Linked DNA regions of Homo sapiens. The protein of the gene in region 1 interacts with the protein of each later gene in a pairwise test. Each region holds a gene or a part of one and is shown in the gene's direction. Other genes may lie near its edges.

Evidence for each region.
Region 2: the proteins of ORC2 (region 1) and DBF4 interact in a two-hybrid assay, tested with the Homo sapiens proteins (one large-scale study listed by BioGRID).

The regions. Positions count from the first base shown.
Region 1 is NC_000002.12:200,925,661-200,929,160, reverse strand, and holds part of ORC2 (origin recognition complex subunit 2), read left to right. Parts: intron 1-2,260; coding exon 2,261-2,393; intron 2,394-3,228; coding exon 3,229-3,325; intron 3,326-3,500. UniProt on the Homo sapiens protein: Component of the origin recognition complex (ORC) that binds origins of replication. DNA-binding is ATP-dependent. The specific DNA sequences that define origins of replication have not been identified yet.
Region 2 is NC_000007.14:87,900,493-87,903,992, forward strand, and holds part of DBF4 (protein DBF4 homolog A), read left to right. Parts: intron 1-271; coding exon 272-386; intron 387-3,500. UniProt on the Homo sapiens protein: Regulatory subunit for CDC7 which activates its kinase activity thereby playing a central role in DNA replication and cell proliferation. Required for progression of S phase.

The DNA.
Region 1 (3,500 bases):
TGACCAACATAGTGAAATCCTGTCTCTACTAAAAATACAAAGTTAGCCGGGCTTAGTGGTGCATGCCTGTAATCCCAGCTACTTGGGAGGGTGAGGCAGGAGAATTGCTTGAACGCGGGAGGCAGTGAGCCAAAATCGCACCACTGCACTCCAGCCTGGGTGACAGAGCAGGACTCCATCTCAAAATAAATAAATAAATGCTCATTCTCCTTGGAATGAGTGAATTAATGGTTTAGTATGACTTAACAAGGCCTTTGTTACTTGACCTCTTTTCAATTTGTATCAGTTTCAACTCTGCTTCAGCCTATAAAAGTTTTTAGGACTTTTTTTTTGTTGTTTTTTTTTTTGAGACAGAGTCTTGCTCTGTTGCCCAGGCTGAAGTGCAGTGGTGCAATCTCGGCTCACTGCAAGCTCTGCCTCCCGTGTTCACGCCATTCTCCTGCCTCAGCCTCCTGAGTAGCTGGGACTACAGGTGCCTGCCACCACGCCCAGCTAATTTTTTTGTATTTTTAGTAGAGACAGGATTTCACCGTGTTAGCCAAGATGGTCTCGATCTCCTGACCTCGTGATCCGCCCGCCTCGGCCTCCCAAAGTGCTGGGATTACAGGCGTGAGCCACTGCGCCTGGCCTTTTTAGGGCTTTTATTGGCAATGGTCTCCCTTGCCTCCAGTCATCTGTCATCTGAAAAGTAATAGAAGCTACAGTGAAGCTACTGAACAAATTAGAACTAGAAGCTTGGTATACAGATAATAAAATTGTGCCTTTACCTTGTATGGGTTTGGAATAAATATTTATTTATTTATTTAAGATGGAATCTTACTCTGTTGCCCAGGCTGGAATGTAGTGATGTGATCTCAGCTCTCTGCAACCTCCACCTCCCAGGTTCAAGCAATTCTCCTGCCTCAGCCTCCCAAGTAGCTGGGATTACAGGCACCTGCCACCATGCCCAGCCAATTTTTGTATTTTTAGTAGAGACAGGATTTCACCATGTTGGCCAGGCTGGTCTCGAATTCCTGGCCTCATGTGATCCACCTGCCTCGACCTCCCAAAGTGCTGGGATTACAGGCGTGAGCCATCATGCCCGGCCAATAATAATTTTTAAAAAGAATACTTTTTTTTTTTAGGAAGGAAGAGGAAGAACTGGGATGGCTGAATCACTAAACATTGATTCCTGGCCTTGCACGGTGGCTCATGCCTGTAATCCCAGCACTTTGAGAGGCTAAGGCAGGCACATCACCTGAGGTCAAGAGTTCAAGACCAACATGGTGAAACCCCGTCTCTACTAAAAATATAAAAATTAGCTGGGCATGGTGGCGGGCGCCTGTAATCCAGCTGCTCAGGAGGCTGAGGCAGGAGAATCGCTTGAACCCGGGAGGCGGAGGTTGCAGTGAGCTATGATGGTGCCACTACACTCCAGCCTGGGCGACAGAGCGAAAAAAAAAATTATTATTAATTAGTTAATTTTTTTTTACAGACACTGTCTTGCTCTGTTGCCCTGGTTGGAGTGCAGTGGCGGGATCTCGGCTCACTGCAAGCTCCGCCTTCCGTGTTCACGCCATTCTCCTGCCTCAGCCTCCCAAGTAGCTGGGACTACAGGCACCCGCCACTGCACCCAGCTAATTTTTTTTTTTTTTGTATTTTTAGTAGAGATGGGGTTTCACTGTGGTCTCGATCTCCTGACCTCGTGATCCGCCCACCTCGGCCTCCCAAAGTGCTGGGATTACAGGCGTGAGCCACCGCACCTGACCTAATTTTTTTTTTAAATAAAAATATTTTTGGCTAGACATGGTGGCTCACACCTGTAGTCCCAGCAATTTTGGGGGCCAAGGTGGGTGGATTACTTGAGCCCAGTTGTTCAAGACCAGCCTGGGCAACATGGCAAAAGCTCATCTCTAGTAAAAATATAAAAATTAGCCAGGTATGGTGGTGCACAGCTGTAGCCCCAGCTTCTTGGGAGACTGACGCTGAAGAGTTGCTTGAACCTGGGAGGCTGAGGTTGCAGTGAGCCAAGAGTGCCACTGGACTCCAGTCTGGGTGACAGAGTGACTCTGTCTCAAAAAAAAAAAGATACATATATATACATACATGAAAAACTTTTTTGCGTTTGCCTTCCCAAAATTCGGGGATTACAGGCTTGAGCCAGTGCGCCTACCCCTTTCCTGTATTTTTTATAAACTGAATTTAAGGAAACTGGTTGATAATAAAATTGGCAATAAGAGGTATTGAAGTTTAATTTCATGAATACTGTCTTTCCTAACAGCCTTGGGTTCAACATTGTGCTTTATGGTTTGGGTTCTAAGAGAGATTTACTAGAAAGGTTTCGAACCACTATGCTGCAAGATTCCATTCACGTTGTCATCAATGGCTTCTTTCCTGGAATCAGTGTGAAATCAGTAAGTTTCAAAAATGTTAAAGGGAAAAACATTATATCCTCTGCCAATTCAAGCCCCCACATAAATGAGGATGGAGTATTAAAGAATTTTTGTTTTAGCCTTCACGGTAGTAGGATTGTATAGTGCTTAATACCATGTGTTTGGACTCAAGAATCTAGCTTTGAAACCATCTTCGAATGTCCTACATTGTAACTGACATGTATTAAAACTTAGGAAAATGTTAGCTTTGTTTACTATACTGAGTATCAGTGGTACTTCTGAAGGAGGGAATTATGGGGTCTTCAGTTTTGTTATAAACTATGAAAATGCTTTATTAGGCAAAAACTACATGCTGTGAAAATGCTTTAAAATGCAACAGGATGTGATGTGAAGACTGTAGTTTAACAATACATTTATCATAGATCATTTTTATTTCAAATGCTTAATATCTCTTCATCATTTGAACATGAAATCTTTTGGGTGCTGGATATTGAGCCATATAGTATTCCTTTTTTAAAGTGTCTGTAGTGTTTGTGTCCTGTTTCCTTTGATAGAACTGTAGTTTTCTAATGTTTCTCATGTTCTTGGGAGCTTTTTCATTTGTTTTTGCTGCCCTCTTATATTACCTATTACCTGTACATCTTTGCTATTCTTTTCTGTTTTCTTTTAGCCACAACTTAGGCAAAAAACAATGAATTAGATATACTCAAGTACCAGTAGAATTTTTAAAAGTTATTTTTTAAACTTTTGGGAAATCCAAATTCATTTTTAATTTATAAAAAAAGGTTTGATTTTCTAGTTGTATATGACAATAAATTGTAATTAATGTGGTACCTCTTCCACATTCATGATATAGGTCCTGAATTCTATAACAGAAGAAGTCCTCGATCATATGGGTACTTTCCGCAGTATACTGGATCAGCTAGACTGGATAGTAAACAAATTTAAAGAAGGTAACATGAAGTAGATGCTCGGTAGTTTTAGAGTAAAGTTAAGCATATACTTCTACTTATTCATGTATTTATATACATACAATATTATTATTATTATTTTTGAGACAGTCTCTCTGTTGCCCAGCCTGGAGTGCAGTGGTGCGATCATGGCTCACTGCAGCCTTGACCTTCTGGG
Region 2 (3,500 bases), on another chromosome or scaffold:
TCTGTTTAGATGGAGGTGGGGAGGGCCTTAAAATATTTGTGAATAATGAAAATGTGTAGTTTATCTTGAATGATCTGAAATATTCTCCAGAATATTCATTAAATCTTTAGTTTGCTTCTCAATATAGTATAAAGAAATATGATTAAAAGTACTTGCTGATACAAGTCTCTGCAAATTATGCAGATTGTGTGTGATAGTTTAGGACAATAAATTTTTAAAGTTATTCCTTAGGTTCAGCAGTTAATTCTTTACCATGTATGTCTGTCATCAGAATCCAAACAGATGGCGATAAGTATGGTGGAACCTCAATTCAACTCCAGTTGAAAGAGAAGAAGAAAAAAGGATATTGTGAATGTTGCTTGCAGAAATATGAAGATCTAGAAACTGTAAATGTGATTTTATATTTTGGGGGCTTGTTTCGAAAACTGTAATACTTGTGTTTTAAATTTTAGCTTGTTATTCTGATGCAGATATTTTACATTTTAAGAACTCAAGGGAGGAAATGAGTATTGAAAATGAATTTTTATTCAGCAAATACTGAGCGTCTACTACATACTGATCACTACTCTGGGCAAACAGCATTGAACAAAACAGACTTAATTTTTTACCGTTGTGAAGATTATATTCTGTAGGGTAGGGGTGGGATAGGGGTGGAGATAGGTAACCACAGGATAAAAGAAGAATAAAAATATAGAGAGAGAATATTAGATCAGTGCTATGAAAAAATAGAACATAGGAATGGGGATGTTGCTATTTAGCCTAGACAAGGAACACATAACTGATAAGGTGACATTTGAGTAGAGACCTGAGAGAAATGAAGTAATGAGACCTGGATATTGAGATAAGTAAGTGCAAAGGTCCCAATTTAAAATGATTGATGGGACCAAGGAATAGATATTGATAGTCCAGACTAAGTGGTAGTAGAAGTGCTGAAACATGGTCAGATTGTGGATTTGTTTTAAAGGTGGGACCAAGAGGATTTGCCAATGGATTGGATGTTGCAAGTGAGGGAAAATGGTAGTCAAGGGTTACTATAGTATTTTGAACCTTAGCAATTAAAAAGTGGGCTTATTATTTATAATGGGAAGAGAAGAGTTGAAAGAAGTAAAGACCATTGAGGTAGCAGAAAGAAATGGGAGAGTTGCAAAGGGTATATAGGATGAAAATGGGGGAACTATTATAGTTTGTAAACTGATGAGCAAGAGCTATGGATTCAGGCTGCCAGGTTTGAATCCTGGCTCCCTGGCTGTGTGAGCTTGGACAGTGTTTGGCACATAGTAAGTGCTTATTGTTAGCTGTTATTTGAATAATTTTTTACGTAATAGATAGGTTTGTTTTGGTGTTTGGTTCGGTTTTGGTAGAAGATGGTGGGAAAGTTAAGGGGAAAGAATAATACTGGAACATATCTGTCTTCAGACTCTGAATTGAAGTTTGTTTTATAAACCAAAATATATTAGTGTTTTGTGTCAGTTTTTTTGTTTTTATGTAATAAACAAGAAAACTATGATTAGTCTAAAATTGCTTTTAATCAGAAGCTAAAGTATCTCAGAAATATTTCCCCTTCCTGAAAATAATTTTGAAAATTAAAATTACAGATTGGTCCTGAAGTTTTACTTTGCTGGTGTAGCAACAAAATAATCTGGAATGGATGCTTAATTTGGTTCTCAGAAAATGTCGAGGCTAAAAAATGAAAAAATTGTTCAGTGGTTGCCACAAAGAAGAAAATTAGTGAAAGCAGATGTTGAGATTAGAGGTTGGGATTGAAATTTAAGGTCATGTTTTTACAGTTTTCATTTATATGTTTCTTAGTTGCTAAGAGTAAAGACATTTTTTTTTTGAATGTTAGGTTTCATAATGATTCAATTCCACTTGTATCAAGGGATTAATTAACACATATTTTTGAGTACTGGGGAGAAAGCAACAGATAAGGCGGACATCCCTACCCTTATGCACCTTATGGTCTGGCAGTGTAGATAGATAGAAAATATGTATTTGCAAGTGTGATGAGTTTCACAAAAGTAAAGTATGAAGTGCAATGGGAATAAATAATGAGGTTATTTAACCTAGAATGAGGGTCTCAAAAGGCCCAACTGAACACAGGTGACGCTTTAAATTAAGACTTATAAGGATGAGTAAGAAGAACTTAATGGAAATTAGAGGGGAACTAAATAAAAGTTGGAAATTTTTCCTTCCCAGAACATTAACAGAGTGAATCTGAGCTTACAAGATTTGATGCTTCCTTTTAAATTTTGATAATTCTTATTTTTATTACTGGGCATATATAATTTGTATATGGTAAAGTTTGCAAGTAATGAAGGAATACATGTATATTACAGGATGCTAGTTTTTAGAAATGTAATAAAATCATCAAAATGTAAAATTGCATGAAACTAGGGAAATAGAAATTAGGTTCTTTAATGGTCATCTAGAGGAAGCTTCTAAGTACAATTCCCTCCCTGATCAGCTGACAGACAAATAATAAAGTTAGGCTGGAGATTCCACCTATTCACAAGGAACTTTGTTTCCTGTGAATTTTATCTCACTTTGTTGTGAACTTGTTTACTTTTGGTTTTGACCACTCTTTTTGTTTTGTTTTTTGTTTTTATTTGAGATGGAGTCTCGCTCTGTCACCCAGGCTGGAGTGCAGTGGTGCAATCTCAGCTCACTGTAACCTCCATCTCCCGAGTTCCAGAGATTCTACTGCCTCAGCCTCTCTGGTAGTTGGGACTACAGGCATGCGCCACCACGCCTGGCTAATTGTACTTTTAGTAGAGACGGGATTTCACCGTGTTGGCCAGGAGGTCTCGAACTCCTGACCTCAGGTGATCCGCCCTCCTTGGCTCCCCAAAGTGCTAGGACTACAGGCGTAAGCCACTGCGCCCAGTGGTTTTGACTGCTCTTAAGAATGAGAATAACTTCTGTATACTCTGTTATGAGCACTGGGTAATTGAGATCATTTGTTTTGGTCATTCCCAAATGTGTTCTTCAATTACGAATCTTGGCTTTTTTAGTACTTCACAGCATTTAATGTGGTTCATGTGTTTAATCTACTTTCTGGATTCTTTTATGTTAACTTATATTTCATTCATTTATTATTCTATAAGCTCTGCCTTATTTAGTGATAATTGCATGAAGACAAAGTAATAGAGGGAAATGTGTTTTCCAAAATGTTACTGTTGTCTCTCTCTCTGTATCCCTTTTTTTTTTTTTTTTTTTTTTTGAGACGAAGTCTTGCTCTGTTGCCCAGGCTTGAGTACAGTGGTGCCATCTCTGCTCACTGCACCCTCCACCTCCTGGGTTCAAGTGATTCTTCTGCCTCAGCCTCCCAAGTATCTGGGACTACAGGCATGTGCCACCAGGCCCAGCCGATTTTTTGTATTTTTAGTAGAGATAGGGTTTCACCATGTTGGCCAAGCTGGTCTCAAACTCCTGACCTCGGGTGATCCGCCCACCTCGGCCTCCCAGAGTGCTGGGATTACAGGCATGAGCCACTGCGCCTG